Linked DNA regions of Homo sapiens. The protein of the gene in region 7 purifies or fractionates together with the protein of the main gene of each other region. This does not show direct contact. Each region holds a gene or a part of one and is shown on either strand. Other genes may lie near its edges.

Region 1 (4,883 bases), on a different chromosome or scaffold from region 7:
GCCCAAACTAGCTTAGCTGCAGACAGGTTAAGCTAGAGAAGTTAAGAAAATCATTCAGCAGATTCATCTTTGCTTCCGATAAAAAAAGGTTGTTTGGTTAATGGTGTGGGATAGAAATGTTGTGAAATAATCTGTTTCAGGTTAGGCACTGTATCTTAAATTTAAGATTCTAAGTTTCCTAAATAATAATGCAAACATTGATACATGTAGTTTATCTCCATCTCAAAACCAATAAATAAAAATAAGAGCTGCAGTTGCTTCCTCTGCAATAGGTCATTACAAGTTGTCTGATCTCTCAGAGCCACCCCTTGATAACAACATAAAGTTTAAAAACCTGCATTAGTATTTTTTTTGAGAATTTGCTTTTCTGATCAAGAGTTTGAACTTTTCAAATACCACGACCATATAATTTTTTTAACATCATTTTTCTGTTGTAGAACAACATAGAGACTAGGAATGGAAAGATTTAAGGTTTCCTTGTCTGCAAAAGTGGATAATATTAGTACTTACCTGTAACAGGTTGATTGGTGGCCCCCCAAAATATATGTCAACATACTAATCCCAAAATCCGTGACTGTTACCTTACTTGGAAAAAGGGTCTTTGCAGATGTAATCAAGTTAAGGATTTTGAGATGAAAAGATCATCCTGTATTCCTGTATTATTCATATGGACCCAATGACAAGTTTCCTTATAAGAGAAAAACAGAGGGAGATTTGAAACAGACAGAAGAGGAAAAGATACATCCAGGAGGAGAAAGACGTGTGAAGATGGAAGCGGAGAATGGAGCGATGCGATCACAAGCAGAGAACGCCAGCAACTCCCAGAAACTGGAATAGACAAGTAAGGGAATCTTGCTTAGAGCCTGAAAGGAGGCTGCAGACACTTTGATTTCCGATGTATGGCCTCAAGAACTTCCCAAGAATACATTTCTGTTTTTTTATGTCACCAAGTTTGTGGTAATTTGTGAGGGCAGCCTCAGGAAATTAATGCACAACCTCATAGAGCACTAAAAATGGAGATAATTAGTACTACCTAACTTGTAAATTTGCTACGAGGATTAATTGAGTTGATATATTCGGTATAGTAGAAAAGTGCCCCATACCTAGTAAGCGCTCCGGAGGCACTAAGTGAATTTTTATCAAAGGAACGCTAAAGTCGAGGCAGCCAGTTGTTGATATTATTGCTTTTCTGGACCATGATTGGTGGACTGGACATCATAATGCTGGAAGGCCTGTCAGATTACGAAACTGAAGAAACGAAACAAAACCATGAGGATGGTGAAAAGGTCAGGAAGAATGAACTATTTCATCTGTAAGTTTCATTTGAGCCCGAACGTTCTATGAAAGGAACCCATCAGTTCTCAATGTATTTGTCTCCTTGCTTCTCTGCACTTGTTTCCTTGCTTCTCTTAGTTATTTCTATACAATTCCTTAATCCCTAAAAGCAATTTAGAACGGAATGCAGGGACCACAGGAGAAAATGAGTTTTATTGCCTCTGATGGGAGCCTAAAACCCCACGAGGCTCCCAAAGGGCGGAATTCCCAAGCCAATTCCTCGCGTCTATGATCCACCTGCAAAAAACTACGATTCCCAGAAGGCTTTGGGTCCGGGGGCGGGAAGACTGAGCTCAGAAAGAGGTGGACTCTAAGAGAAGGTCTTTGGTCGATTACATTGTCCAGAGAGGGAGTGGCCGCTTGGGCGGATTTTGGGAGGGATCAGCCTTCCAATTGGTTGTTATTAGAAAGGGGGTTGGTACGGCCTGCTGGTGCTGGACCTAGGCCGCCGCGGCCGGAGCTCAAATTTCCCGGGCCGGGAGCGCTGGGCCTGCCGGGAAGGCGCTGGGACGGTTACCCAGCGGGCCGCCGGCGGTCGTGGGCAAGCTTCGCCATGCAGAGCACTGACCTAGGCAACAAGGAGAGCGGCAAGATATGGCACCGCAAGCCGTCCCCGGCCACGCGGGACGGGTAAAGGCCGTGGCGGGAGGGCGCGGGCTGTGGAGGGGATGGAGACCGGCGAGGAGGGGACGCCGGGCGTCAGGCAGCGTTCCGGGTTCTGGCTCTGACCTTGCCCCGCATCCCTGGGTTGGATGACCTGCGGTGGAACAGATGGCTCCGGACGCCAGGGTCCGCAGAGATCCCCTTCTGAGTTCTGGGAGCGGGGGTCTGGTCCGGGACAGCGCGGAGCAGGAGGAGGCCGGTGGTTCTCAGACCTGGGAACTTGCGGCTTTTGCTGTGTACCGGGACTCTCCTGCTTTTATGATCACGGTATCCCGCTAGTGTCCCTGGCACGTAGTAGGTGCTCAGTGAGTATTTAACAGTTGCAGCTGGAGCAGAACTCCAGGAGGAGATGCGGGGTGGAAGAGCAGGACAATTCTGCCTCTTCCAAAGGCTGCAGTTTATCCATCCTTAAATCCTTGGATGTGTTTAGACGCACAAGCATTCATCAACTATTTGTTGAGCTCCTACTGTGTGCCAAGCACGCCTCTAAGCGCTGGGGACGGCGATGGAACAAAACACACTTCCGGTTCTCTGGAGTTTACATATCGGCGTGTATGTAGGGGCTGGGGCGTTCATTATGCATTGCTGGGGGGCTTCTAGTACGGCCAGCGCTGCTTTTCATTCTGTTCCCAGTTACCTGTCCTGTTTGAGGCTCAGCCTGTCTTGTTTCCCTGGAAGCCTTTGCTACAAAGCGGTGCCATTTGGATTTCGATTTCTGCACGCAGAGTGATCTTATTGCTCCTAATTCCCTAGGATTTCACGGAAATTGCTTGAGTTCCTGTTTCAGTGTGTTTCTTGTTCTAGCAGTGATTTTTCTTTTCTTTGAGACGGAGTCTTGCTCTGTCGCCTGGGCTGGGGTGCAGTGGCGCGACCTCGGCTCACTGCATCCTCCACCTCCCGAGTTAAAGCGATTCTCTTGCCTCAGCCTCCTAAGTAGCTGGGATTACTGGCGCGCGCCACTACGCCCGGCTAATTTTTGTATTTTTAGTAGAGACGGGGTTTCACCATGTTGGCCAGGCTGGTCTTGAACTCCTGGCCTCAGGTGATCCGCCTGTCTCAGTCTCCCAACGTGCAGGGATTACAGGCCTGAGCCACCGCGCCCGGCCTCTAGTGATTTTTCTATTGATCCTTTGGTTGCTTCTTGACAAATCAGAATTTTTTTTTTCTCTTGAGACAGAGTCTTGCTCTGTTGCCCAGGGTCGGATGCAGTGGCGCGATCTCGGCTCACTGCAACCTCCGCCTCCCGGGTTCAAGCGATTCTCCTGCCGCAGCCTCCTGAGTAGCTGGGATTACAGGCGCACCACTCCCGGCTAATTTTTTGTATTTTTAGTAGAGACGGACCGTGTTAGCCAGGATGGTCTTGATCTCCTGATGTCGTGATCCACCCACCTTGGCCTCCCGAAGTACTGGGATTACAGGCGTAAGCCACCGCGCCTGGCCGACAAATCAGTTTTAAGTGCCTACTCTGTATATCCAAAGTGCGATGCGAGACGTTTTACCAGCAGCTTGTTTGGTTCCTGGTTACTGTCAGGCCTCTTTATCAATGCCGCTGCCTCAACTACATTGAATAAAAAATTTTCTCTAAAGTGGGGATTCCTCAAGTTTTTCATTTTCAAATTCTGAGTTTGTGTGAATACCACTCCCACCTCTGGTATTCTCTAAACATTCTAAAAGTTATAGCCCACTCGCCTTCTCTTTCTTGATGATACAAAATATCTAGATATATGTGCAAGATTCAAAAAGTGAAAGAAATGGGTTGATTATCCAAATGTCTTGTTTGCTTCTTCCACTAAAGCATAGCTTATCTTTGTGTTCGTTAAAACCCATTGTTCATGCTGTTTAGACGGGCAGAGAGCACTGACTTGGAGTCAGATGTATTTTGTTGAAGTAAATGTCCGTTTACCAACTCTGTGACCTTGGGGAAGTTAATCACTAAGGCTGTCAGTGGGGAGAATCAGATTTACCAGACAGGTTGTCTTACACATTTGGTGCTCAGTAAATATTTGATATTCTTCTTGTGTTTGAGAACTGAGGAACTCTGTCAGGCAATCTGTGAGAATCTGAAAGGAAGTTGCTCTAAAATAAATTTTTTACGTGTGATTTATATGAAAAATCGGAGGGGCAGAATGTCACTATTGTGATTACATCTACATGGTAGGATTATAATTGAGTATTTGTTTCTTAGTGTATTTCTATATTTTTCATATTTTGAACAATGATTGTGTAATTTTGTAGCCAGAACATGTAATAAGTGTTCTAGAAAATAAGACTGGAGGAAAAAGTTGTTTGCTCTGAGTTTAGTTGCCATGAAACATTTTGATATTGCTTGTCATTTCTGTATGTTTATTTTTGTGTTTTTAATTCCTTGGGGACTAGATAAAAATAAGCATTGTTAAGAATTTTGCTATTTCCTTTAGTGAGTCTAAAAAGCCTTATGTTTAGATACACATGGAGAAAATGTTTAATCCACTTAATTCAATTTAGTATACTTTAATGAAATTATAATGAAGATAGATGTTTCTAATATAAAATCCAAAAACTAGGCAAGGTGCAGTGGCTCACGCCTGTAATTCCAGCACTTTGGGAGGCCAAGGTGGGAGGATCACGAGGTCAAAAGTTTGAGACCAGCCTGGCCAACATGGTGAAACCTTGTCTCTACTAAAAATACAAAAAATTAGCTGGGCATGGTAGCGTGCACCTGTAATCCCAGCTACTCAGGAGGCTGAGGCAGGAGAATCACTTGAACCCAGGAGGTGGAGATTGCAGTGAGCCGAGATTGCACCACTGCACTCTAGCCTGGGTGACAGAGCGAGACTCCATCTCAAAAAAAAAAATAAAACAAAATCCAAAAATTTATGAAAAATCAATTAAGATAAAATTTTCAT
Region 2 (4,123 bases), on a different chromosome or scaffold from region 7:
AAAGCAAGTAGTTTATAATCTTCTAACTGGGTGGCTGTAAAGTTAGACAAGACACGAGGAAGAACCTCCCAGTTAAGAGAAGTCAAACTCAACAAACAAGGAAGAATATGGGCCTTTGAATCCCTGCATGATTTGGCCAGTGTAGCCCTGGCATTCATGAGGCTAGGGAATGACACTGGAGAGCACTTCCTGGTCCCCCAAGATGATTCCAGAAATGAATTCCCTTGTTGCCTGCCGGCTGCATCCCTCCAGTTCAAGGAGCAATCACACAATATGGTAAATCAGATAATTTCCTTCATTCAAAATGAAAACAGCAGAACTGAAATTAAGAAAGAAGGCTATAATTACCCAGAGAATCTCTGTTAAATGTCGAACTTGTCTGAGTTTCCATATTACAACTCTCTTTAGCTTGATGATATTCTGCCAATTCTTTTAAAAAATGCATAAGAAAACCTAAAAAACATATGCATACAGTTTTGTTTCAGAACTTTCAACCACTGCTCAGTCACTGTTTTTACAATCTTAGTTTTAGGACATTATCATTTTTTACATTATATATCTTTCCTTTTTTTTAGAGACAAAAGTCTTGCTCTGTCACCCAGGCTGGAGTGCAGTGGTGTAATCATGGCTCACTGCGGCCTCGACCTCCTGGGCTCAAGCAATCCTCCTACATCAGTCTCCCAAGTAGCTGGGACTAGAGGTGCACACCACCACCCACCACGCCCAGCTAATTTTACTTTTTGTATAAACAGGGTCTTGCTATGTTGCCCAGGCTAGTCTCAAACTCATGGCCTCAAGCAATCCTCCTGCCTGGGCCTCCCAAAGTGCTGGGATCACAAGCATGAGCCACTGTGCCCAGTCATATCTTTTAATAAATCTGAGAAAAGGCCTTCCCAAGCATGATACAGAACCTGGAAGGAATAAGGAGAAATATTTATCAATCTAACTACATAAAAACTGAAAACTTACATATGGCATAAAATAAAAAAATAACACACTGGGAAAAATAGTTGCAATAATATGGAGGCATAACCAAGACTAAAGTGATGACATTTTCATAACATCAAAGAACTCTTACAAATCAGTTTAAAAAAAAAAAATCAGAAAAATGGGGAAAAACATGGGTAGTTTGCAGAAAAAACTACATTGTCAAAGATGAACACAATTTTTAGATGCTGAATAAACATGAACAAAATCATAAATGCAAATTAATACAACAGAGAAACCATTATTTTCCCTATAACACTGCTAAGATTAAAACTTGTATAATGCTAAGTGTTGGCAAGGGAGTGGATATATAGCTATACTCATTCACTTGGAAGAGAAATTTGTCAGTGCTTATATATATTCGAAATGCATGTGCCCTTTAATCTAGTCATTCCACTTCTATGAATTTACACAGGTATACTTTCACAAGGGCACAAAGGGTGCACACTGCACATAGGTTACCTGTAATGGCAAAAAGCAAACAATAAAACAACCAGATCTCCATCAATAGGGGGTTAAATACATTATTTAAAAATAATTAGTCTATACTGCTACAGAAAGATACATTGGTGGATTAAAAAAAGCAAATTGCATACAGTATCTACGATATAATCCCAATTGATTGTGTTTTAATTACAAATACATAGTTTTAACCTCAAACAATTCTAGAAGATAAACAAGAAACTGTTAATTCTAGTTATCAGTGGAGTGAAACTGTTAATTCTAGTTATCAGTGGAGCGTGAGATTAGAGAACATGGGCAGAAACTGCTACTTTGCTTTCACTTTATATCCTTCTGAATAGTTTGAAACTGTTTTAAACCACAAGCATAAATTACTTAAGAAATGTTTAGTTTCTTGGAACTAAAAACAGTAGTTAGCTCAGCACCTTTTCCCCCACCCCCACTCCCTTCAGGAAGGGGATTAGATTTTGTCACAGTCTGCATACCATCCTGGGATCACCTGACCTAAATTTGCAAACATTAAGGTTCACTCTTGATGACGTAAAGCTCTATGGGTTTCGACACTGGGTCTTTCATTCTCTTAACAGCGTCTTTTGGCAGGGTACAGTGGCTCACGCTTGTCATCCCAGCACTCTGGGAGGCTGAGGCAGGCGATCACCTGAGGTCAGGGGATCGAGACCAGCCTGATCAACATGGTGAACCCCATCTCTATTGAAAACACAAAAAAATTAGCCAGGCGTGGTGGCAGGCGCCTGTAGTTCCAGCTACTCAGGAGGCTGAGACAGGAGAATCACTTGAACCCAGGAGGCAGAGGCTGCAGTGAGCCGAGGTCACGCCACTGCACTCCAGCCTGGGTGGCAGAGTGAAACTCCGTCTCAAAAACAAAACAAAAAGAACAGTGTCTTTCACAGAGATGTTTTTAATTTTAATAAAGTCTAACTGATCTACTTTTTTCTTTCATGTATCTTGCTCTTGGTGTTACATCTCATCACGAAACCCAAGATCACAGACTTTCTACTGTTCTCATCTGGAAGTTTTATAGTTTTGCATTTTACATTTAGGTCTATGGTTCATTTTGAGTTAGTTTTTGTGTAAGGTATAATAAATAAGATCTGTGTCTAGGTTCATTTTTGCGCATATGAATATCCAACTGTTACAGCACCACTTGTTGAAAAGACTATCTTTCCTCTATTGAATTGCCTTTGCACCTTTGTTAAAAAAAAAATCAATTGACTATATTTGTGTGGATGTATTTCTGGACTTCCTAATTCTGTCCCCATTGATGTATATGTCTTATTCTTTTGCCAATTGCAGATAAGAATTTTTACTTCCAAAAAGCAAAGGGCCGATGTCCAAATTTTCTTCCCTCATCCAAATTTTGTGCACATCATTTTCTGGATATTGTCAGGCCTCTGAGCCGAAGCTCAGCCATTGTAACCCCCGTAACCTGCATATATACGTCCAGATGGCCTGCAGGAGCCAGCTAAAAAACCACAGAAGTGAAACAGCTCCTGCCTTAACTGACTGACCAACCTTACGACATTCCACCATTATGACTTGTTCTGCCCTGCCCCAACTGATCAATCGACCTTGTGACATTCTTCTTCTGGACAATGAGTCCCAAGATCTCTCCACCATGCACCTTGGGACCCCCTCCCCTGCTAACAATAAATAACCACCTTTAACTGTAACTTTCCACTGCCTACTCAAGCCCTATAAAGCTGCCCCTCTCCTATCTCCCTTCACTGACTCTCTTTTCGGACTCAACCCACTTGCACCCAAGTGAATAAACAGCCTTGTTCCTCACACAAAGCCTGTTTGGTGGTCTCTTCACACAGACACGCATAACAGATATCATTATCTCTGAAAGGAAAATTAGCAGTGGGAAGAATGGGTGACTAGAATCTAGGAGGAAAAGTACCAAGGCCATTCAACAGCTTAGCACCCCCTGAGCATAGATATGGTAGGATAAGACCATAGGTCTGAGTCAGGGGACAGACAACGGTTAAGTACACAATATCTTCCTACATGTTTTCTGTTACTTAATTAGAAGACACCAATTTTTAAAAAAATTTTATCTTACCAGGAGCTATTTTGTTAGCTAAGAGTTCTATCCAAATTTTGGCACTAGGATGCCTGACCTATCTGCTACTCATAGTTTTTCTGGCTTCCAGAAATTTTACTGGGATGCTAGGTGAAGCTGGTAAGGGCTGTCGGCCAGATGTCTTTCTGAACCAGATGCATTTAAAGAGACTGTGTAAAAACTATTTTTTTTTTTTTGAGACGGAGTCTTGCTCTGTCGCTAGGCTGGAGCGCAGTGGCGTGATCTTGGCTCACTGTAACCTCTGCCTCCTGGGTTCAAGCGATTCCCCTGCCTCAGCCTCCCAAATAGCTGGGACTACAGGTGCACGCCACCAGGCCTGGCTAACTTTTTTTTGTATTTTAGTAGAGACGGGGTTTCACCATGTTGGCCAGGATGGTCTTGCTCTCCCGACCTCGTGATCCGCCCGCCTCAGCCTCCCAAAGTGCTGGGATTACAGGCGTGAGCCACTGCGCCCGGCCATGGAAAAACTACTTTTAAGGATAATGTATCTATAGTAACTACATAGATTTTTTTTTTTTTTTTGAGATGGAGTCCAGCTCTGTCACCCAGGCTGGAGTGCAGTGGCGCTAT
Region 3 (4,123 bases), on a different chromosome or scaffold from region 7:
AACATCCCAACAGCCATTTTTGAAGAAAGGGGAAAAGCTGATCCTAACATTCATATGGAATTGCAAGGGACCCTGAATGGCCAGAGATCTTGAAAAAGAACTATATTAGAGGACTTACAATCCGCAATTTCAAAACTTAATACAAAGGTACGGTAATCAAGAGTATGTTACTACCATAAGGATAAATGTATAGTTCAATGAAATATTAAAAGTCCATAAGTAAACCCATACACCTATGGTCTACTGATTTTCAACAATAGTGCCAAGACCATCCAGTGGGGAAAAGAATAGTCTCTTCAACTAATTTTGCTGAGACAACTGGATATCCAAATGCAAAAGAATGAAGGTGAACCCTTACATAACCCTACATGAAAAATTTAACTCAAAATGGATCAAAGACTATTGAGCCCTAAATATAAGAGCTTAAACCATAAAACTCTTAGAAAAAAGCACAGGGATCATGACCTTGGGTTAGGCAATGGTTTCTTAGATATGACACAAAGAATATAAGCAACAAAAGAAAAATTAGATAAACTGGATGTCATCAAAACAAAAAACTTTTGCTCATGAAAGAACACTAACAAGAAAATGAAAGACAATTCACAGAGTAAGAATATTTGTAAATCATATATCTTGTCTAATATCCATAACATATAAAACTCTTATAATTCAACAACAATAAAGAAAACCCAATTTTTAAAATGTACAAAGGACTTGAATAGGCCTTTCTCCAAAGAAAATACACAAATGGCCAAAAAGTACATAAAAAGATATTCAAATTACTCATTAGGGAAATGCAAATCAAAACCACAGCCAGATACCACATCACATTCACTGGTATGGCTATGATCTAAGAAACAGAAAATATCAAATGTTAGTGAGGATGTGGAGAAACTGGAACCCCTATACGTTGTTGACGGGAATGTAAAACGGTACAGCTGCTATGGAAAACAGTTTGACACGGAATAAGTTAAACACAGAATTACCATATGGCCTAGCAATTCCATTCCTAGGTATACCCCAAAGAACTGAAGATTAAGTGTCCAAACGACTTTTCCGTGAACATTCATAGCAGCACAATTCACAACAGACAAAAGGTGGAAAAAGGCCAGACACAGTGGATTATGCATGTAACCAAGGCAGGATTGCTTAAGGCCAGGAGTTTGAGACCAACATAGGCAACACAGTGAGATCCTGTATCTAAAAAATAAATAAATTTTAAAAACAAAATTAAAAAAAAAGGTGGAAACAAAAAAAATGTACATCAACTGATGACTGGATAAACAAAATGTGGTGTATCATTGGAATGCATTCATTAGCATATACAATGGAATGTTATTCAGCTATAAAAAGGAATAAAGGACTGATATATACTCCAACATGGATGAACCTCAAAAACATTATGCTAAGTGAAAAGAAGCCTGCCAAAAAAGGTCACATATCACATGACTCCATTTATATAAAACATCCAGAATATGGGAATCTATAAAAACAGAAAATAGATGAGTGGTTGCCAGGGACTGGTGGTATGGGGGCTGGGGATATCTGCTTAATGGGTATTGGCTGTACTTTGGAGATGATGAAAATGTTCTGGAACTAAACAGTGGTGACGGCTGCACAACATTGTGAATGTACTAAACAACAACGACTTGTACACTCTAAAATGGTTAAAATGGTAAATTTTGTTAGGTGTATTTTACCACAATTAAAAAAAAAACACATGTACACAATATTCTTGAAAAAAAATCAGAGGAAAAACATAAGCAGAAAACAATTTAAGAAATTATAATGTTTGAAGTATAACAACTCAATTGATTTTTCTCATGGCCAAGGCCCTTTCCCTATATATATGTCATATCAACTTCTTTAAGACAAGGACGTCTGGGCCATGCCCAGCTCCGTCCTCTGTGGGAGAGGTTATACGCACCTCCAATTACTCTAATATTGTTGTCCTTTGTAAGAATAGCGTCGGCATGGAATACCAAAACTGGAATTCTCCTGCAGCCTCCAGTCCACATGATGCATGGATGATCCCTATAACGACAAAAAAGCCTTCATTAATTTACAGCTCAAAACCTGAACTAACTGCTGATGCAGATTACTATGGTTTGTTGCTTAGCAAGTTTCCCCTTCCTTCTGGAATACAAATCCCAAATATCCTGTGGGAAATCACATCTCCCATTCTTAGCTGTGTGTTTAAAATTAACTCTATCCCTGGTTCAGGGATGGGCCTTGATTGGTTTCAGCCAATCAAGATACTTCATCATCCAGTATAATTAGTGGTTCAGAGATAGGCACATAAACCAATTGGAGCCCATAAGTTTAAGGAGACATGTTCTGGACTCTGTGAGAAAGCAATGGTTTCTTTCTCTTCTATAATGGCTACAGATGATAGCCTGTCTTCCTCTTGATGGTATAGGATGAGAATGAGAAGTCTGGAAGGGCAACAACCATTTTGTGACCTTGAAAGAAGAGCCTGTAGCTGTTGGTGAAGGAGAAAGTCAGCAGGAGGTTGACTGAAGAGATAAAGTGGGATTTTCAGAATCAAGATATGCCTGAATATGAGTGAAAGTATTCTCTTTATTACTTAGGACCATTTGGATTATGTTGTAATCCTTTGCACACATAAAGAATCCTAACTGATGAGTTCACAATAATTTACATACTCCTTTTACACGCTATAGTCCATTTTCAAGCCAATTTGATGATGCATCCTAAGACTCTGAACTAGGAACTCTAAATTAATACAAGTATCCCAATTAAAATCACATATTTTAAAGGAAGCCCATGCTAAATGGAACAATATATATTTTCCTCCAGTATAAAACCACAGGGGAGAAAAAGACCTCTGACTTTATTCTCTTTCCCTATCCTCAGGAAATCTCAGCTTAATTTTAGGCTGATGAATATTTACTCACAGATCAGAAAAACCTTCACCCTCATTAGGGCAGGGAGGTAGGAAGAGAAATAAAATTAAATGAACTGAGTCCCTACTATGTGCCAGGATTTAAACTAAGAGCTCTCATATCTCACTTAATCCCCCTGCCCATACTATGAACTGCAGGAAAACTGTCTCAGAAAGGTTAAGTAACCTGCCTAAGGTCATATAGCTGGTTAAGTAAGGGATGAGGTATTTGAACCTAACATCTGTATTCTTTCTACTGTTTGCCTCCCTAATCGCATTTCAGCAAAGTTGTATATATTGGATACCTTGAATTCAATTATTTGGGAACTTAAACTGATAATTCCTTAAATGCAATACAATCCACTTGGCCAAGATTCACTCGACTCTTAAAAACTCACATAACCACATCCCTTAACAAAGGTCATACCACAAATCTCAGGGCCAAGTCAGCCCCTCCCAATCCAACTTTAAAAAGATCCACACTCGGGCCGGACACGGTGGCTCACGCCTGTAATCCCAGCACTTTGGGAGGCCGAGGCAGACAGATCACGAGGTCAAGAGATCGAGACCATCCTGGCCAACATGGTGAAACCCCGTCTCTACTAAAAATACAAAAATTAGCTGGGTGTGGTGGCCCGCACCTGTAGTCCCAGCTACTCGGGAGGCTGAGGCAGAAGAATCAGTTGAACCTGGGAGGCGGAGGTTGCAGTGAACCAAGATCGTGCCACTACACTCCAGCCTGGCAACAGAGCAAGACTCCGTCTCAATAAAAAAAAAAAAAAAAAAAAAAAAACATAAAAAGATCCACACTCTGAATGCACAGTCTGTAAGGCTCCCAATCTTAGGAGTGAGGCAGTCTTTAGACTTGGGACAAGCTGCCAACTGCTTTCTAGTGAAGAAAGCAAAGAACAGCATACCTAGTTTATTCCCCGTTTTCTAGAAATGGCATGTGGATGCTTATTGTTCTTGTTCTTTGACTTGGTGACAGTACCCACTTGTGAGAAACGGTGCTGATAGGGTACCTTTTTTAGCAGGAAGGATTTTTTTGTGGCTTGCTTGCTTCTTCATCTTTAACACCTGTAAAATGTGGGCATGAAGCCAGGTGATTCCTATGATCTCTTCCAACCTTAATTTTTCCACTATATTTCTAAATCAGCAAGTACAGAAAAAAACAGGCAGCCTAAACTACAAAGTCTCAGACAGGAACTCTGGAAACTA
Region 4 (4,123 bases), on a different chromosome or scaffold from region 7:
CTCACTGCAACCTCTGCCTCCTGGGTTCAAGTGATTCTCCTGTCTCAGCCTCCCGAGTAGCTGGGGCTACAGGCATGCGCCACCCTGCCCAGCTAAATTTTTGTATTTTTAGTAGAGACAGGGTTTCATCATGTTGGCCAGGCTGGTCTTGAACTCCTGACCTCAGGTGTTCCACCCGCCTCGGCCTCCCAAAGTGCTGGGATTATAGGCGTGAGCCACTGAGCCCAGCCTCAATTTTTTAACCTGGGTAGTTGTTACATGTACGCTGGCTTTATGATAATTTGTGAAACCGTACATTTATATTTTATACTCTTTGGAGTATATTATTTTTCACAACAAGAAAGTTAAGTAGTGGAAGCAGTGGGACTCTTGGGCAGGAGGGACGGGTCCCATCCCAGAGATTCAGGTGTAAGTGGTGTGTCTGGAGGAGTCAGGGCCTGCCCTGGAACTCCTCACTGCTCACAAAATTTTTAAAAAAAGAAAAATAGGCCAGGCACGGTGGCTTACACCTGTAATTCCAACACTCTGGGAGTCTGAGACAGGTGGATCACTTGAGACAGGTCGAGAGTTCGAGATCAGCCTGGCCAACACGGTGAAACCCCGTCTCTACTAAAAATGCAAAAATCAGCCGGGTGTGGTGGCACACACCTGTAATCCCAGCTGCTCAGGAGGCTGAGGCAGGAGAATCGCTTGAACCCAGGAGGCAGAGGTTGCAGTGAGCAGAGATCACGCCATTGCACTCCAGCCTGGGTGACAGTGCGAGACTCGGTCTCAAAAAAAGAAAAAGAAATGGTGAATGTACAGGGCAGCCAGGGCACTGAGATTTTTCAAAGCTCCCGGGCAATTTGAGTGCATATCCAGAGTGAACCACTGCATTGGTTGAAAGGCCGAAGAGAACTTTATAAAAGAGGGAGCCAGCTCTCAACAGCTGAAATCATCAGTCTCAACACCACCAAAGGAGGCATCTTGCCAAAACCTACCCCACATGTGATTAAACCTATATAGGGTTAGCCACCACTTCACTGCAAGTACAGGGGACAGAGAAGGACATTAAACACACCATGGCGATATAATCAGCAAAATCTATTTTTCATTTTTCCATCTGAGTATGCTTGCTAGGGAAAAATTCAGCAAAATCTAGACTGCAAAACTCTACAGGACAAATAACCTGATTTCTTCCACAAATAAGTAGCATGAAAAGTGGAGAGGGGGATATAAATTAAAAGAGATTTAAGAAATACATCAGCCAAGCTCAGTGGCTCGTGCCTGTAATCTCAGCACTTTGGGGGGCCAAGGCAGGTGGATGGCTTGAATTCAGAAGTTCAAGATCAGCCTGGGCAACACAGGCAAACCCTGTCTCTATAAAAAAATATGAAAATTAGCTGGGCATGATGGCATGTGCCTGTAGTCCCAGCTACTCAGGAAGCTGAGGTGGGAGAATCGCTTGAGCCCAGGAGGTAAGGACACAGCGAGCCAAGATCGTACCACCACACTCCAGCCTGGGCAACAGAGCAAGACTGAAAAAAAAAAAAAGAAAGAAAGAAAAGAAAAGAAAGACCTCGACAAACTGCAATGTGCAGCCGTATTTAGATACAGGACGAATTCAAACCACTTGCAAAAAAGACATTTGAGAGGTGATCAGAGAAGTGTAAGTGTGAACGCATACGCAGTGGGTTTCAGATGACATCCTGGAATTTTTGTGAATTTTGTTGGATGTGATGGCAGCACTTATATCCTTATGTGTTAAAGATACACACTGATGCTTTTACAGAGGAGACACGAAGACTGGGATTTGCTACAGGGCAGGGGGTGGCAGTACATCAAACAAGATGGGCAAACGTGGGTAACTGTTGAAGCTGGGGGACAAGTACGTGCAAATTATACTACTGTTTACTTTTGTGGTGCTGGAATTTTTCCTAATAAATCCTTCTTAAAATCCGTGGTTCCCCACACTCTCTAACAAGGAGCTTTCCTTTCTATTCAGCCCCTGCCCATCTGACTTCTCCCCTCCTCTCCTCCTGCCTCCCTCTCCCACAGGCTCCAGCCAGATGCAGTTCTCACCTCCCAGAACCTTCTCTCCCTCTTCTCCTGGCAAGAACGACTCCACTCATCCGGGAAGCCTACCTGCCCCTGACGTTCTCCGCTCTCCCAGCCCTCTATACCTTTCCTTCCTAGCACCAGCCCTGGCAGACCTGGCATGTAGAGGAGTGTCCGTTTCCCATGTGGATCCCACCTTTCTGGGGGCAGAGCCTCCACCTGTCTGGTTCACTGCACAGGACCCCAGGCTGCGTGGCCGGGCGCCCTGCATTCAACTCTATTCCACTTGTTAACAAGCTGGGTGGCCCTGGGCAGTTTCACTTCACATCTCTGAGCCTCAGGCCATCTTTTCTCATCTGTGAAGAGGGACGATAATAAGAATGCCCGCCTGTTAGGCTGTAAGAATCTATCCACAGTGCTTAGACCATGTCTAGCATAATAAACATTAACTAGCGTCAGGCAGTGTGCCTGGCACAGTATGAACTCCATAAATGTTGGCTCAATGAATGAATAAATCTCAGAACCTTCCCAAACTCCCTAATTCCTGGCTGGGAAGAGGAAGATAAGAAGCCACTGAGCAGCGGTGGGATCTCAAGGCTCCTGTGGTTGGTTCCAAAGGGTGGAGGGCGCCCCCTTGTGGCCATCTTGGGAAACACACACCCAGAAACACAAACCTAGAAACACACACACACAGCCTGAGACAGAGCAAACGCGCGCGCACACACACACACACACACACATACACACACACACAGCCTGAGAGCAGATCCTGAGGATAAATTTTGGCCTCCCCACTGCGGCCTTCCTCGGCCCAGCCGTACACAGGCGAGCTCCTCCAAAGACCGGCGGGGTTCCCCAGCCCCATGAGCTCCCATAAGGACTGGTCCTCCGGGTCAGCACTTAGCGCTCTGTCCTGGGCTTGCAGCCACCAACAGTGCAAACAGCTGGGGAAACAACAGAGGCTCGGCGCTGGCTGCCTGGATCTAAGGTCCAGCCTAGCCATATTACCCACTGTGTGACCTGCGCCAAGTTCCCTAACTTCTCTGGGCCTCTGTCAAACGGTGATAATAGCAGTGCCTACCTTGTAGGGTGGCTGTGAGGATAAAATGAATTTAATCATAAAGCACAGAGCAGCCCTGGCATACAGTTAAATGTTCAATAAACATTAGTTACTGGTAACATTATTACTAAAAATATTATTAGTCCTCCCCAACGAGCCAGGCCTCTTCCCGGTAGCGATCAAGCCCCAGATTCGTCTCCCCAACAGAACCAAGCACAAGGCAGGCATGAATATATATGCCAAAGGCCTTTGCTTCTTTCACTTCATTCATTCCCTTGTTCTCACCGCATTCCCACCTAACACAAGGACTTTGCCCAGGCTGTTCCCTCTGCCTACAACACTTCCCCAGCCCCTGGGCCTGACCCACCCTACACCCCAGTGGAGTCCTGTGACAGCCTCCCACAGCACAGGCTCCCTTTCCTGCCCTACTCATCTCCATCTGTAATGATATACTCAAGTGGTTATATACTTAGCACCCATCTCCCCCAGGGCTGGGCACTACGTGAGTGGCAGGGAGGGGCTAGCACAAAAGGTGCACCCCATGAAGGTGGATTCGCCTACATAGAGCTCGACCTCCCCCCAACCTTTGCACATGCTGCTCCCTTTGCCAAGAACACCCCTCCCGTACCAGGCAGGGTCAGGTACCCCACCCAGAGCCTTCACTGTCTGCAAACACATCTGCCTCCCTCCCTGGACTCAGAGTCCCAGGAGGGCAGTGCCAAGATAGTCTTGGTCACCACTATGTCCCCAGCACCACCCAGCACAAAGGTACAGAAGAGGGGCTCAGAGGCCGGGCGCAGTGGCTCATGCCTGTAATCCCAGCACTTTGGGAGGCCAACGCGGGCAGATCACTTGAGGCCAGGAGTTTGAGATCAGCCTGGCCAACATGGCAAAACCCCTTCTCTACTAAAAATACAAAAATTAGCCGGACATGGTGGCGCGTGCCTGTAATCCCAGCTACTTGGGAGGCTGAGACAGGAGAATCGCTTGAACCCGGGAGAAGGAAGCTGCAGTGAGCCAAGATCG
Region 5 (4,123 bases), on a different chromosome or scaffold from region 7:
CAATGTGTTGCACCAGAAAATATTGAGTATATATTAAGACTTCAGCAAAGATCCCCTGAAACAAGTGACACCAAGTCATTTACTGCAAATAAGGGATGATTACACAGATTCAATAATAGGGTTAGACTGAAAAATATTAAAATTATTGGAGAAGCTGTGTCTGCTGATGAAGCAGCTGCTGTCACATTTCCAGCAGAGATGAAGAAGCTAAGGAGAAAAGATACCATCCAAAGCAAGACTTCAATTGCAGCGAAACTAGGCTGTTCTCAAAGATGACTCACAGAACCTACATTCATAAAAGTGCAAAGGAGGCTGGGCGCAGTGGCTCACACCTCTGCGTGAGCCAGGCACATTGGGAGGCTGAGCCAGGCAGATCACGAGGTCAGGAGTTTGACATCAGCCTGACCAACATGGTGAAACCCCATCTCTACTAAAAATACAAAAATTAGCCAGGCTTGGTGGCGCGCACCTGTAATCCCAGCTACTCAGGAGGCTGAGGCAGGAGAATCACTTGAACCCAGAAGGCGGAGACTGCAGTGAGCTGAGATCACACCATTGCACTCCAGCCTGGCCGACAGAGCGAGACTCTATCTCAAAAAAAAAAAGTGCAAAGGAGGCACTAGGGCATAAGAGAGAGAACACACTTTTATGAGAACAAGTTTTCACATAACTTTTATGACAGTATTTTGTTACAATTGGTCGATTTTATTAGAATTCTTGCTAATCTCTTACTGTGTCTAATTTATAAATTAAGCTTTATAATAGGTATGTATGTATAGGAAAAAATATATAAGGTTCAGTACTATCTGTGGTTTCAGGCATTCACTGAAGGTCTTGGAATGTCTCTCCCATGGATAAGCAGGGACTACTGTATCTATTTTTTTTTACTGTGTCTTGCATTTTTGGTCTCAAATTTTCTTTTCTACTTTTAACCCAAGGTCAAGAGTGCTTCTCTTATTCTGCTTTTTCCTCTCAATCAATCTTCAAGCAACTGATATTTTTAGGGAAATGGAGTCTACAGAATTACTCTTACTTTAATAATGTCAAAAATAATGATTACAGCTGAAACAGAAGGCATACTATATTCTGTTAAAGCACTGAAAAATTATTCAGAAAGATTGGGATTCTAATTACAGCTCTTGCCACTAACTTTTGTGTATCTTTGTGTCCTCGTCTACAAAATAAAAAATGCTGGGGCTAGTAATGTTTAAGTTTCTTTTCAGCACTCATATTCTAAATATGTATTACTTACTCTTTCAATCTGCTTTTCCATTTCTTTATGCTGTTCCAAGTGAATTTTCTTTGCTTTTTCAAAGGCTAAACAAATTTTCTCATGCTCTGTATTAATATTGGTTTCTAGACTCCTTATCTTTTCATTCTTTTCCTAGAAACACAAAACACTTTAAAGGAGTATAATTGATTTGGGAGGCCAAGGCAGGCAGATCGCTTGAATCCAGGAGTTCAAGACTAGCCTGGGAAACACGGCAAGACCCCGTCTCTATGAAAAATACAAAAAATTAGCTAAGTAGATGTGGTGGCATGCGCCTGTGGTCATAGCTTCTGGGGACGCTCAGGGGGAAGCCTGGGAGGACACGGCTGTAGTGAGCCATGATTGTGCCACTGCACTGCAGCCTGAACCACAGAGTGAGACTTTGTCTCAAAAAAAAAGTATAATTGAAAAGCAGTTTTACATAAAAGTACATTAGTCAACCATTAAATATGTCATACTCCATTCTTTAAAGAACCACAGTAGTTTATACTTCAAACTTTAACAAAATGGCTAAAAATACTTTATCAAGACGAGAAGATTTAAACTATTTTAAATATCAAGAAGCATATCAAAGAACTACCATTATCTTCAATCCTATTAGGATAAAAATGAGAAAACGGCCGGGTGCGGTGGCTCACGCCTGTAATCCCAACACTTTGGAAGGCTGAGGCGGGTGGATCACGAGGTCAGGAGATGAGACCATCCTGGCTAACACGGTGAAACCTGTCTCTACTGAAAATACAAAAAAAATTAGCCAGGCGTGGTGGCGGGCGCCTGTAGTCCCAGCTACTCGGGAGGCTGAGGCAGGAGAATGGCGTGAACCCAGGAGGCAGAGCTTGCAGTGAGCCGAGATCACACCACTGCACTCCAGCCTGGGCGACGGAGTGAGACTCTGTCTCAAAAAAAAAAAAAAAAAGAGAAAACTTGGATAACTTGCCATATAAGCCTATTAACTTAAAAATATAAACAAGAAATGATCAGAAGAGTTTAGTAGAATTTATACTTTCCTATATATTTTATAATAATGATGCTAAAACAAATGTGCTGTCACAAATTAAGTGCCTAAAAATCACAGTAAATTTGTAGGAACAAAGATAAGTTTTACCATAAGCTCCTGTTCTAGTTCTGCATTTTTTGCAGCAATAGAGGAATAAGCAACTATCTTTTCTTCCAGCTGTTTCTCAAGAGTTAAAAGTTGAGAACATTTCTTTGTCATCTGAAAACACATTGAAATAAATGTAAAATTATTTTTTAAAGGTAATGATTTTGCATTCTAAGATCAAACACCTGCTCCTCTTTCAAAGTTCAAATACATTGTGTCTAGGTAAATTGGGCAAACTTACAGTTATAAACATTTAGGATGCAAAGTGAATAACTTTTTAACCCACATAATTATAAGTATTTTACAAAATAAGTGACAATTAAGAAGAAAAACAAATACTGAAAACAAAGGATCACTTCTTCTATCTATGTAAAACATAAGTCATTTAATTCAGACCCCTATATCCAAAAAGGACAATACCCTAATCTATTTTTACGTAGCTGTTAAAGACTGAAATAAGTACAATAAAATGTTATCAGCAGTTATTTCTGGTGGTAGAATTATCAATGGTTCATTTTCTTCTTTTTCCCCTTTTATATTAACAAGACTGTGCTATTTTTGTAATTTAAAAAACTTATTAATCCCAGTATTTGGCAATTTCCTAAGTAAACTGGTAGCCATAGTTATAAACTGTCTAAATCTCCATCTTCATTATTAACATAAGTTCCTATCTTATAGTTCTTTTTCCTCAGCCTTGGCTATAGACTTTAAGCTGAGAAAGCAGGTATTTAAAAAGTGTACCTATAGATGACTGCAGCCTCTGGTTTGAAGATCGAGTATAAGATATACACATGTGGTCCTGGTCCACAATTACCTAATGAGGCACCCTTATCCTGTCCTCAGTGAAAATGAAGACAAGATATTCACAAAACACTCATTATCCCCTTTTCAGAATGTAATTCCTTGCGTAGTTGTTTCAGGTTTACATGCAGTTGTTTAAAAATACAGACTCTTTAAACAGCAGAAATACACAAAAAATAAAAATACAGATTCCGGCTAGGTGTGGTGGCTCACACCAGTAATCCCAGCATTTTGGGATACTGAGGTGGGGATCACCTGAAACCAGGAGTTCGAGGCAAGCCTGGGCAACACAGCGACTGTCTCTACAAATAAAAAATAAAAAAACTTAGCTGGACATAGTGACACATGCCTGCAGTCTCAAATACTTGGAAGACTGAGGCAGGAGAATGGCTTGAGCCTAGAAGTTCAAAGCTACAGTGAGCTATGATCACACCACCACACTCCAGACTGGGCAACAGAGCAAGACCCTGTCTCTAAGAAAAAAAAAAAAAAAGAAAAAGAAAAGAAAAAAGCAGACTCTTGTGCCCATATATACTGAATCAGAAATTGCTGGAACAGGACCCAGAAATATGCATATTAAACAGGCTTCCTAGGTGGTTTGGGGTTTGCTAAAATTTGAAATCCTTTATTATCACTCCTTTTCTTCCAACAGCATAATCCAAAGTCTTTATTTATAAATGTATATTAACCATATTAACTTATACTATGGAAGAAATAATAGGCTGCAATGCAATATTATTTCCACCAAATTTGAGACTTTTACCCACTACAGTTTTTCCTACTTTTAATAACTTTAACTTTTAATAAGTTAAAATACAAAGGTTTCCAAATATAATTTTAAAACAATTTATAACTTATGTGGTACCATTTTTTAAAAACTTTAAATCTGGATGTAAACATATAATTTTTATAAAACCCTAAAATAATACCTTTTGTTCTAGTTCAAAAAT
Region 6 (4,868 bases), on a different chromosome or scaffold from region 7:
CAGACCTTCGAGGGTCCCCCACAGACCACCTGGGGCTGACGCATTGGGGGTGAGCAGAAGCCCTGCCTTACTCTTTGTGGACAGAGATTCTTCCCCAAAGCCGCCTCCCGCCAGCTCTGCTCCTTGCCAGGAGGCTGAACAAGAGGAGACCGTTGGAGGCACATCCGTTCTGAATGCATCTCGGGGCGGGCTACCAGCTGCCCCAGCCCACACCTCACCAGGCCCCGCCTGCTGTGGGATGGGCACTCACTTCGCAGGAGCCGGTGCGGGCCACGGGCACCTCAGCCGACTCGTGAGTCAACACGTGGGTGCCGGCAGCAGCCGTGTGGATGTCAGAGGCCTCCAGCTGGGCCCAGGGCTCAAGGCTATGGAAACCGGGGCCATCCGCGTTGGAGGCGTCTGAGCGCTCTTGGGACAGGCTGACCTCCGGGAAGGGCCTGGGTGCCAAGGCGGCCCGGCCGGACTGCTGGGGGACAAGTGCCCATCAGCGTCCTGGGCCATCACACCCCAACCCCATCTCATAGGGCGAAGGGGGTACTCACGGCTGTGGGGCTGGGCGTCTGGACCACTGGAGACACACTGAACCGCACAGGTTTGCTGGAGGCCACCGGGCAAGGGAGAGGCTGTGGCCCCGGCCCCAGGAGGACTAGAACAGAGCAAAGAACCCCAGTGACCCAGGGGCCAGCTGTGCAGATGCCTGGTGAGGGTGACGCCTGGGGAGGGCAGCAGCAAGTGGCCCAGCCTCACCGGCTCTGCAGGACCCACAGCCAGTATCCCCACTTCCACCCTAGGCCCTGAAAGTCTCCTCTTCCAGCTAGAAAGCTTGGGGCCCCCGGGTACCCCTCACACAGACTTCCCACCCTCGTGGTTCTGGGAACTCGGACAACCTACGGGCTTCCCTGGGTCCCTGCACCAGCTGCAGCCAGCACACCACTGGGTCCTTTCCCAGCCCTGCCCTCTCCTACCGAGCCCCACGCACCCTACAGGCCTTAACCTGGGTCCCCGCTGACCCCCCAGACCCACCTGCCTCAGGAGGGGAACAGCTCTTCTCAATCGGCTTGGAAGGCACTTTCAAGCTCTCACTTGGAAACCTTGGCAGGCAGAGGGAGAGTCAGTGTCTGGGGGCCCAAGGGCCACCCACCCTCCCACCACCGAGGCCTCCCTCGAAAGAAGCAGAACCACTCACCGGACGTGGATGTAGCGGTCATGCCAGCTCTCTCCCTTGGGCACAGGGAATGCCATTTCCCGAGGCATAGGAGTCACGGGCAGCTTTGCCCACTGGGCCCCAGAGATGGCTACAAGGAGCAGGGTTGTTCCAGGTCAAGGGAGGCTGTTTAGCCACCTGAACACAGGGCACCCGCCAAGGCACTGCCACGCCACCAGCCCAGCCACCGCCCCACCCCAGGGCTGCCTCTGGGATGGGTTCTGACCCCAGGGCTGCCTCTGGGATGGGTTCTGGCCAGAGCTCAGAGACAGCACAGCTCGAGCACTGTATTTTCCCAAGCACCCTGGACTTGGGCCTCTCCAGGGCTGAGAGCATGGGTGAGATATGGAGTGGGGAGTGCAGGTGCGGCCCTCACCAGGCTCAAAGCACAGGTCACTGGTGTACAGGTTCCTGACCAGCAGGCTGGCGCACAGCCTGATGCTCTTGAGATGGCCGTAGCACCGGTTCAGGTAGACCAGGAGAACGTCCTGCAGATCGAGCTGCAGGCAGGTCCAGCGGGCTCCGGAGGGGGCCAAACCCACCAGATCTGCAGGATGGGCACTCAGGGTCAGCGCCCACCCTCCTGACAGCCCGCGACTCCCAGAACTGTGAGCTTGTGCCCCCGCCAGGTTGTCCTCCAGGCCGCAGAGGAGCCTCACTGGGCCTGCACCAACTCCCTCCAGCCACCTGTCCTGGATCATCCACACCCCATCTTGGTGTCACCTCTCTGAGGTGTCCTGGCCTCCAGGACCAAGGGAAACTGGAGCCACGTGGCCGTAGACTTAAACTCCTTGAAGAGGTTGGAGAAAGACACACGGATGACTTGGTTGTCCTGTGGGGACGGAGCAGGGCCGTGAGGAGACAGGGGCCGCAGGGGTGCCGGGGCTCCCACGCAGCCCCCAGCCGCGGGCTCCGTACCTTGGAGGACACATCGAGGTGGATGACGAAGTGCTTGCTGGGCAGGGGCCGAAAGAGCACATACAGGTATCGTCCCGTCAGCCCCAGAGACTGGGTGCTGCTCTTAGGGAGCTGGATGTAGTTGGCGGCAGAGACTGAGCCCCGAATGCGATACACGGCGCCCTTCAGGGTCTTGTCCTGGAGAAGCGGGAGCCCGCATCACCGACAGCACCCAGAAGAAGTGCAGCGGGGGCGAGGGGGCCCTCGGGGGCGGGGCAGCTCTCCTGGGGGCAGGGCAGGGGTGTGGGCTCCGGGCGAGCCCCCGGCCGCCTACCGTGACCACGGCCACGTCCCCCTGCTTGGCGGAGCGCTTCCACTCGTCCACCCGGAAGTGTCTGAAGACGTTGAGGAACGGGTGCTGCCACGCTGCGGGGAGCGGGCGCCGGGCGTCAGGGGACTCGGCCACGCGAGCCGGGGCCACTGCGGGGCTGGGCCGGGCCTCGGGGACCAGGCAGGAGCCGGGGCTCTCCGCGCCTTCCCCGGCGACGCCAACGCCAGCTAGGCTGGCGGGACGAGGCCGGGCGCCCGAGGGAAGCCAAGCTCCGGGAGCCCGAGGGTGGGCGCCCGGCAGACGGGACCCTGCCTGAGCGGGGACTCTGGCCTCAGGGCCTAGGCGGGGGCCCTGAGCGCTCCGGCCGCCGACCCTGGACCCCGGAACCCCGGAACCCGGGATCCTCGGGACCCCCGCCAGCCGCGCGCTACCTCGGGCCATGGCGCCGCCGCTCGAGCTTCCCGCCTAGGCCTCCGCGCGCCCAGCGCAGAGTACGCCCCGCGACGCCAGGCAACGGCTGCCTGGCAACGGTGCCACTTCCGCCATTACTTCCGCCGTCATGGCGGCGCCCTGGCCACGTGACCTCCCCGGTGGGAGTACCCCGCTCACGTCAGCGGCCTCCAGGGTTGCTCCAGCCGCGAATCCCGCTGCCCTTTGCCCCGCGGGCCTCCCAAGGCAGCCCCCTGTTAGCCCGACCGGCTTCGAAGCCCGCGCCGGTTGCGGATCCTCCGCCGCGCCCACCTGTCAGCGCCTCGGCCGGCCGGGGCTCCCGCCGCATGCAAGCAGCGAGGCGAGGTCGCGCTGAGGCCTGGCCATGCCACGGACGGCCGGGCCTCACCCTGCCGCTCTCTCGCCGTCCAGAGGCCCCTGCTCCACACCTGGGTACCCTGGGTCCTGACTCAGGTGGGCTGGGTCATCCCCGTCCATCAGGGAAGGTAGTGCGGGCGCCCGCGGAGGGGCTGGTTCCCACGTTCGTCCTATCAGGTTCCCCACGTACTCCTTCGCCCAGTGTCCTGCGGCCGGGCCCGGCGGATTCAGAATGGGACCTGGCGTTCTGAGACACAGCCCCAGTGCCGGTAGTGGGGGGTGGTGGACTGCACTCCGGGGCCATTTAATGTCTTTAGGCCTTGAGTCTCGGCTTCGGTCCCAGTCAACGCCAACGGGAGAGGAAAGAGGAACCAAGTGGGGTCCCCAGACTTCCAAGCAAGGTGGGCTGGCTAACGTCCCTCCTACCTGTCGCAGGGCAGCTGGGTGAGAAGCTAACGGCTTGAAGGAACAGGGCTACAAGGGGAGTTTGTGCTGGGCCTGGCGTCCCAGGCTGTGGACTGGAACTGGACATGAGAACCCCCCCTACACCCTCCCAAGTCAAAGACACTCCAAAAAGACAGTTTCTCCACTTTATTAGCCTGGAGCTCCTCCCTGCCAGCCCCAGGGGCTGGTCGCTGGTCCCTGGGCACAGTGAGCAGGGCTGAGGTCAGACGGGTTCGGCCCTTGGCCATGGCAGCTTGGTTGGGACAGCCGGGCCAAGGGAAAAAAAGGTGCAAAAGTCCAAATGCTGGCACTTCAGGTGTGGCCGGCACCCAGCCAGGCGCAGTGGGTGGGCAGGGCGCCATGCTTCTCTCCTGGCGACAGGTCGGCCGTGTAGCAGCGCCCCCTCCCAGCAGCCACTAGGAACAGCTGGTGATTCTCGCCAGGAACTGCTGCGCCCACCACTCGTCTAGGTCAATGGGCACAAAGTCTGTGGGCAGAGAAGGCTGGGCAGTGATGCTGCCTCCCAGGCCAGCCGGCAAGTCTCCCCTGGAGCTAACCACAAGCCGCTCACCCGGACTCCGAGTGCGGCAGGCGCTGGGAAGAAGGGGTTTCTGCACAAGAGTCCCCTCCCTCATCCCCTGGGGTGGGAACCTGGCAGGGCCTGGGTCAGGATCAGAGGGGCTGGGGGGTCTCTCCTGGGGGGACAGGGTTGGGGGGCTCACTCTGCAGCCGGGGATTGGGGGTCCTCTCCACGTACTGCACAGGCCTTGGCCCGCCCTCACCGGCTGGGCCACCATCCAGCTGCTGTTGCACCTGCTGCCAGGCTGTGGGAGGAGGGCAGTCGGGCTGAGCCAGGTCCCAGGCACCCCATCGCCCACCCAGGGCCTGATGGTCACCCTGGACTCCAGCCCCACACAGGGCTGGTCACAGGACACAAGGGCAGAGTGCCAAGGAAAAGCACAGCCATGCAGCGGCTGTGGGTCAGCTTGAAGTGGGGCCATCCCGGGTCCATGGTTTTGCGACCCAGCAGCCTATGCCGCACCCTCTGGCCCCGCTCGCTACCTTCGGACACAAAGCGGACATTCTCCTCGTGGGCCACTGTGTAGGTCTCCTGGGTCCCCTCGAAGGATGGGGACGTGGAGGGGGCCCGCCGGCCATTCACACGATTGAACACAAGCCTTGGCC
Region 7 (4,123 bases):
AAAGTACTATTAGCAAAGGACCATATTATGGTAGACCTGGATAAGCAGAATACCCAAGTAATTCTTAAAGAGAAAGATGCATAATTATGTATTTTGATAGACAAAAGTGTCCATTATATGTTAAGTGAATAAACAGAAGCTGTGGAAAAGTATGTACAGTGTGATCTCATTTTTAAAAAAGTACATATATAGTTCTATTTGTGCCTGGCACACAGTAGGTATTCAGTAAGTGTTAAATAAATCAATTATATATGAAGAGAAGATATGTAAAAGGAAACACACTCCTGTATTTCAAAACAAACAAACAAAAAAAGGTGTATATTATTGGGAAGTGACAGCATCTTTTATTTTCTTATGTTTCTACAATATTTTAAATTTATCCCCTCAAAGTAATTACAAAAGCTCAATTCTTTATCAACATTTCCGGAGCCACAAATAATTTATCAATCCTTAAAGTTCTTTTACCTACATTCAAGGTTGCAATCCACAGCACCAGATGGTTTTTGAGTTTTCTGTTGTTCTCTGAGTTGCTGGTTCAAAATTCTCAACTGCCTAAAGAAATAATGAAGAACTATGAATGCAAGCATACCAAGCCAATTTAATAGTATACATGTGATAGCCTATCAAAAAAGATAAAACATAAACCCACTAAGACAGCAGAAGTCCATCTCATCCCCAAAAGACAAAAACTAAATAAACAAAACAAAAACAAAACCATACTACTATTATTATGAGGCCTGAGATAATTTTTAAGGTTGCCTGAAACAACATAAAACCTCCCCTCATGGGCCAGGCGCGGTGGCTCACGCCTGTAATCCCAGCACTTTGGGAGGTCGAGGTGGGCGGATCACCTGAGGTCAGGAGTTTGAGACTAGCCTGGCCAACATGGCGAAACCCCATCTCTACTAAAAATACAAAAATTAGCTGGGCGTAGTGGCGCGTGCCTGTAATCCCAGCTACTTGGGAGGCTGAGGCAGGAGAATTGCTTGAACCTGGGAGGTGGAGGTTGCAGTGAGTGAGATCGCACCACTGCATTCCAGCCTGGCGAAAGAGTGAGACTCTGCCTCAAAAAAAAAAAAAAAAAAAAAAAAACCCTCATGAGGAAAGTGTTAATTTCTCTTTTTTGTCTCTTCAGTGATTTGTTGTTTTTTTTCTATTTCTTTCCTTTTCTATCTGCTCATGCTGTTTCTCATCGTCTTTCTGTGTATCTTCATCACTGTAGTTAATCATCTACTTTTTAAAAGATTTGTCATTACTATCAACTAGAATACCTACAAGCACTGACTGCTATCAGACATCTATCTGCCTGATGTTTGTCATATGCTGAAACACAAATCTATGCTTCTAATAATTTTATTAGATGGAAAAGTTAATGGTCTTAAGTAACGAGAATATTAACAGGCTACAAATCTGCCCTGTTACAATGAACTTCACAATATGTATCTGCTTCACAAATAGAAACATATGCAAGTGTTTTCTTTACTTCTAAGAAGTTATCGCTTATGGGGACAAAAGTTACCTCTATTATCTTTCCAGAATTACTTACCTAAAAATATTTTGCCTTAAAATATTTATTTTTGGTACTAACTCTAAAATGATAGTACCCTACCTCACATCACTCACATATATTAATTTCGAGTTGATTAAAGTGATAAAATATGTAAACAAAACCCAACTATACAAGTTTTAGGGGGAAATCTACATAATCTTGAAGTCGGGAAGGCATTTCTAAGTGAAACTCAATATCCAGCAAGCATCAAGGAAAAGAACGAAAGATTTAACCATAGCAAAATTTGAAACCTGTAGAATTAAAAGCCTGAAAGAAAATACCTGCACATATGTTATAGACAAGGGGTCCATAACATTTAAAGAACTCCTACAAATCAGTAAGGAAGGCAACCTAGTAAAAAGTGACAAAGGATAAGAATGAGCAGTTCACCTAAGAAATAGAAATGGCCTATAAGCATATGATAAAAATGCTCATCTTCACTAACATGAAGAATTGCAAATTTAAAAGAAGGTACTTTTTGGCCATAGAATTGACAAAAATAAAAAGAAATAACATTTTCTGATGATAGTACAGGAAATGAATTAACTCAATTCATGTGATTATATCAGTATAACCATTCTGGATGGCAGTTTGAAATGTCCAACAAAATGTAAAATGTTCATAATCTCTGACAAAATTATTCTACTTCTAGGTTATCAAGCATCAGAAACAGTTTTACATGTGCAAAAGCATCTCCCACCTTGTAGATACATACAAGGATGTTCACAACAGCAATTATTTAATAGTGCCAAGTTGGAAACAACTTAAAATGCTACATAAATTATGGTACATCCATATATGAAATACTAATACACAGATAATAAAAAAAGCGAGAGGTCCACTTGTACTGACGTGAAAAGATCTCTGAGACACATTATGAAGTGAAAGCAGCAAGCTGCAGAACAACAGTATAATGTGAGCTTATTTTTGTTTTAATAAAATTCTGATTTTCTTTAAAGGTTTCCCCTTTACAACAGAAGCTTTCCTCGATAATCCTTTTGTATGTCCCTGGTCAGATTCTTCTCTTCCCAAACGTAACCAATCTAAACTTCTAATAATTCACTGCAAGCCTCTCATTCCTACCCTCCTCTTCTCAATTGTATACTTTCCTTTTTTCACTAAAAATAATGTGGTTTGGGGACAAACACAGTCATCCTTTGGTCCCAGGGTGTATCCATATGTGTATTAGCCCTCATTTTTTCCATCTAGTCTGATGAGTAGCCTTATCTGTGCCCTGGATCCCATTCTCCTCCTAGACCATCAAGGACTCTGCTCCTATCCCACTCCCTTTATCTTCTGTATCTGCAGTTTCTCCCTCTTTGCCAGTTCATGTGCCTAAGCCAAGAAACATATTAAAACTCTTCCCATATTTTAAAAAAATTCCCTCCAACCTAACTGTACAAGTAGCTACTTTCATTCCTCTCATTCCCTGCTTTCAGGGCTAGGCTTTTAAAAAAATATTCTATTTAAAATGATACATGATAAAAACAGAAAAAAGGATATTTTAAAAATTGATGTTACACATGCTATTTTAAGATATGTACGAAATTTAAATATACTGGATTTTAAAAAAGGAAAAGAACTGCTGCTACTTAGGCAAATATTTCTTTTATTCAAGTCATTCTTTTTTTTTTAGACAGCTTGAGATAAAACTGACATACTATAAACTACATAAATTTAAAGTGTGTCATTTTATTTTCTGCCATATGATGTAGTAAAACCACCATCACAATTAAGATATCCATCAGCAGCCATAAAAAAGAATGAGATCATGTTTTTTTGCAAGAACATGAAGGGAACTGGAGGCTATCATCCTTAGTAAACTAACGCAGAAACAAAAGCAAATACCACATTCTCACTTATAAGTGGGAGCTAAATGATAAGAACTTATTAACACAAAGAAGGAAACAACAGACACTGGGGTCTGGATGGTAGGAGGGAGGGGAAGGTGGTAGGAGGGAGAAAAGCAGAAAAGATAACTATTGTGTACTGGGCTTAATACCTGGGTGATGTAATAACATGTATAACAAACCTCCTGTGACACGTGTTTACCTATGTAACAAACCTTCACGTGTACCCTCAAAGCTAAAAATTTTTCAAAAAACATATTCATCACCCCTAAAGTTTCCTCATAGCCCTTTTCATAACTCTCTCCTCCCAGATAAGCACTTATTTATAGTTTGCATATTCTAGAATTTTATATAAATGGAATTATGGAATATATACTCTTTTAGCCTGGCTTCACTCAACATAGTAATTTTGGGATTCATCCATGCTGTTGCATGTATCAATAGTTCTTACCCTTTTATTGTTGAGTAGTATTCTACTGTATGGATATAGCACTATTTGTTTATCCATTCACCTATTGATAGACATTTGGGTTGTTTCCTATGAACACTCATCAACAAGTTTCTGTGTGGACACATGCTTTGGCTTCTCTTAAATATCTAGGAGTGGACTGGCTGGATCATATGTTAGATATATGTTTAATTTCTAAGAAACTGCCAAACTTTTTTTCCAAAGTGTTCAAATTATTTTACATTCCCATCAGTTAATTGTGAAATCCTTCACATC

The links.
Region 1: the proteins of CCDC14 (region 7) and TBC1D31 purify together in Homo sapiens (affinity purification with mass spectrometry, with the first as the bait; one large-scale study listed by BioGRID). This does not show direct contact.
Region 2: the proteins of CCDC14 (region 7) and OFD1 purify together in Homo sapiens (affinity purification with mass spectrometry; one large-scale study listed by BioGRID and IntAct). This does not show direct contact.
Region 3: the proteins of CCDC14 (region 7) and TTLL5 purify together in Homo sapiens (affinity purification with mass spectrometry; one large-scale study listed by BioGRID and IntAct). This does not show direct contact.
Region 4: the proteins of CCDC14 (region 7) and CCDC61 purify together in Homo sapiens (affinity purification with mass spectrometry; one large-scale study listed by BioGRID and IntAct). This does not show direct contact.
Region 5: the proteins of CCDC14 (region 7) and CCDC18 purify together in Homo sapiens (affinity purification with mass spectrometry; one large-scale study listed by BioGRID and IntAct). This does not show direct contact.
Region 6: the proteins of CCDC14 (region 7) and WDR90 purify together in Homo sapiens (affinity purification with mass spectrometry; one large-scale study listed by BioGRID and IntAct). This does not show direct contact.

What each region holds. Positions count from the first base shown.
Region 1 is NC_000008.11:123,070,882-123,075,764, forward strand, and holds the start of TBC1D31 (TBC1 domain family member 31), read left to right. Parts: upstream 1-1,825; 5' UTR 1,826-1,888; coding exon 1,889-1,965; intron 1,966-2,367; exon of another isoform or gene 2,368-2,503; coding exon of another isoform or gene 2,504-2,550; intron 2,551-4,883. UniProt on the Homo sapiens protein: Molecular adapter which is involved in cilium biogenesis. Part of a functional complex including OFD1 a centriolar protein involved in cilium assembly.
Region 2 is NC_000023.11:13,740,745-13,744,867, reverse strand, and holds part of OFD1 (centriole and centriolar satellite protein OFD1), read right to left. Parts: intron 454-4,123; coding exon 349-453; intron 1-348. UniProt on the Homo sapiens protein: Component of the centrioles controlling mother and daughter centrioles length. Recruits to the centriole IFT88 and centriole distal appendage-specific proteins including CEP164. Involved in the biogenesis of the cilium, a centriole-associated function.
Region 3 is NC_000014.9:75,667,327-75,671,449, reverse strand, and holds part of TTLL5 (tubulin polyglutamylase TTLL5), read right to left. Parts: intron 2,035-4,123; coding exon 1,928-2,034; intron 1-1,927. UniProt on the Homo sapiens protein: Polyglutamylase which modifies tubulin, generating polyglutamate side chains on the gamma-carboxyl group of specific glutamate residues within the C-terminal tail of tubulin.
Region 4 is NC_000019.10:46,008,471-46,012,593, reverse strand, and holds part of CCDC61 (centrosomal protein CCDC61), read right to left. Parts: intron 1-4,123. UniProt on the Homo sapiens protein: Microtubule-binding centrosomal protein required for centriole cohesion, independently of the centrosome-associated protein/CEP250 and rootletin/CROCC linker.
Region 5 is NC_000001.11:93,214,999-93,219,121, reverse strand, and holds part of CCDC18 (coiled-coil domain-containing protein 18), read right to left. Parts: intron 2,487-4,123; coding exon 2,376-2,486; intron 1,385-2,375; coding exon 1,253-1,384; intron 620-1,252; coding exon of another isoform or gene 593-619; exon of another isoform or gene 470-592; intron 1-469.
Region 6 is NC_000016.10:647,422-652,289, reverse strand, and holds the start of WDR90 (WD repeat-containing protein 90), read right to left. Parts: upstream 2,926-4,868; 5' UTR 2,874-2,925; coding exon 2,864-2,873; intron 2,528-2,863; coding exon 2,436-2,527; intron 2,300-2,435; coding exon 2,123-2,299; intron 2,037-2,122; coding exon 1,928-2,036; intron 1,752-1,927; coding exon 1,581-1,751; intron 1,296-1,580; coding exon 1,187-1,295; intron 1,092-1,186; coding exon 1,024-1,091; intron 647-1,023; coding exon 543-646; intron 467-542; coding exon of another isoform or gene 464-466; coding exon 251-463; intron 1-250. Other genes in the region: MCRIP2 (MAPK regulated corepressor interacting protein 2), read right to left, coding at 4,100-4,170, 4,406-4,507, 4,746-4,868. UniProt on the Homo sapiens protein: Microtubule-binding protein that plays a crucial role in ensuring inner core protein localization within the centriole core, as well as in maintaining the microtubule wall integrity and the overall centriole roundness and stability.
Region 7 is NC_000003.12:123,933,204-123,937,326, forward strand, and holds part of CCDC14 (coiled-coil domain-containing protein 14), read right to left. Parts: intron 553-4,123; coding exon 470-552; intron 1-469. UniProt on the Homo sapiens protein: Negatively regulates centriole duplication. Negatively regulates CEP63 and CDK2 centrosomal localization.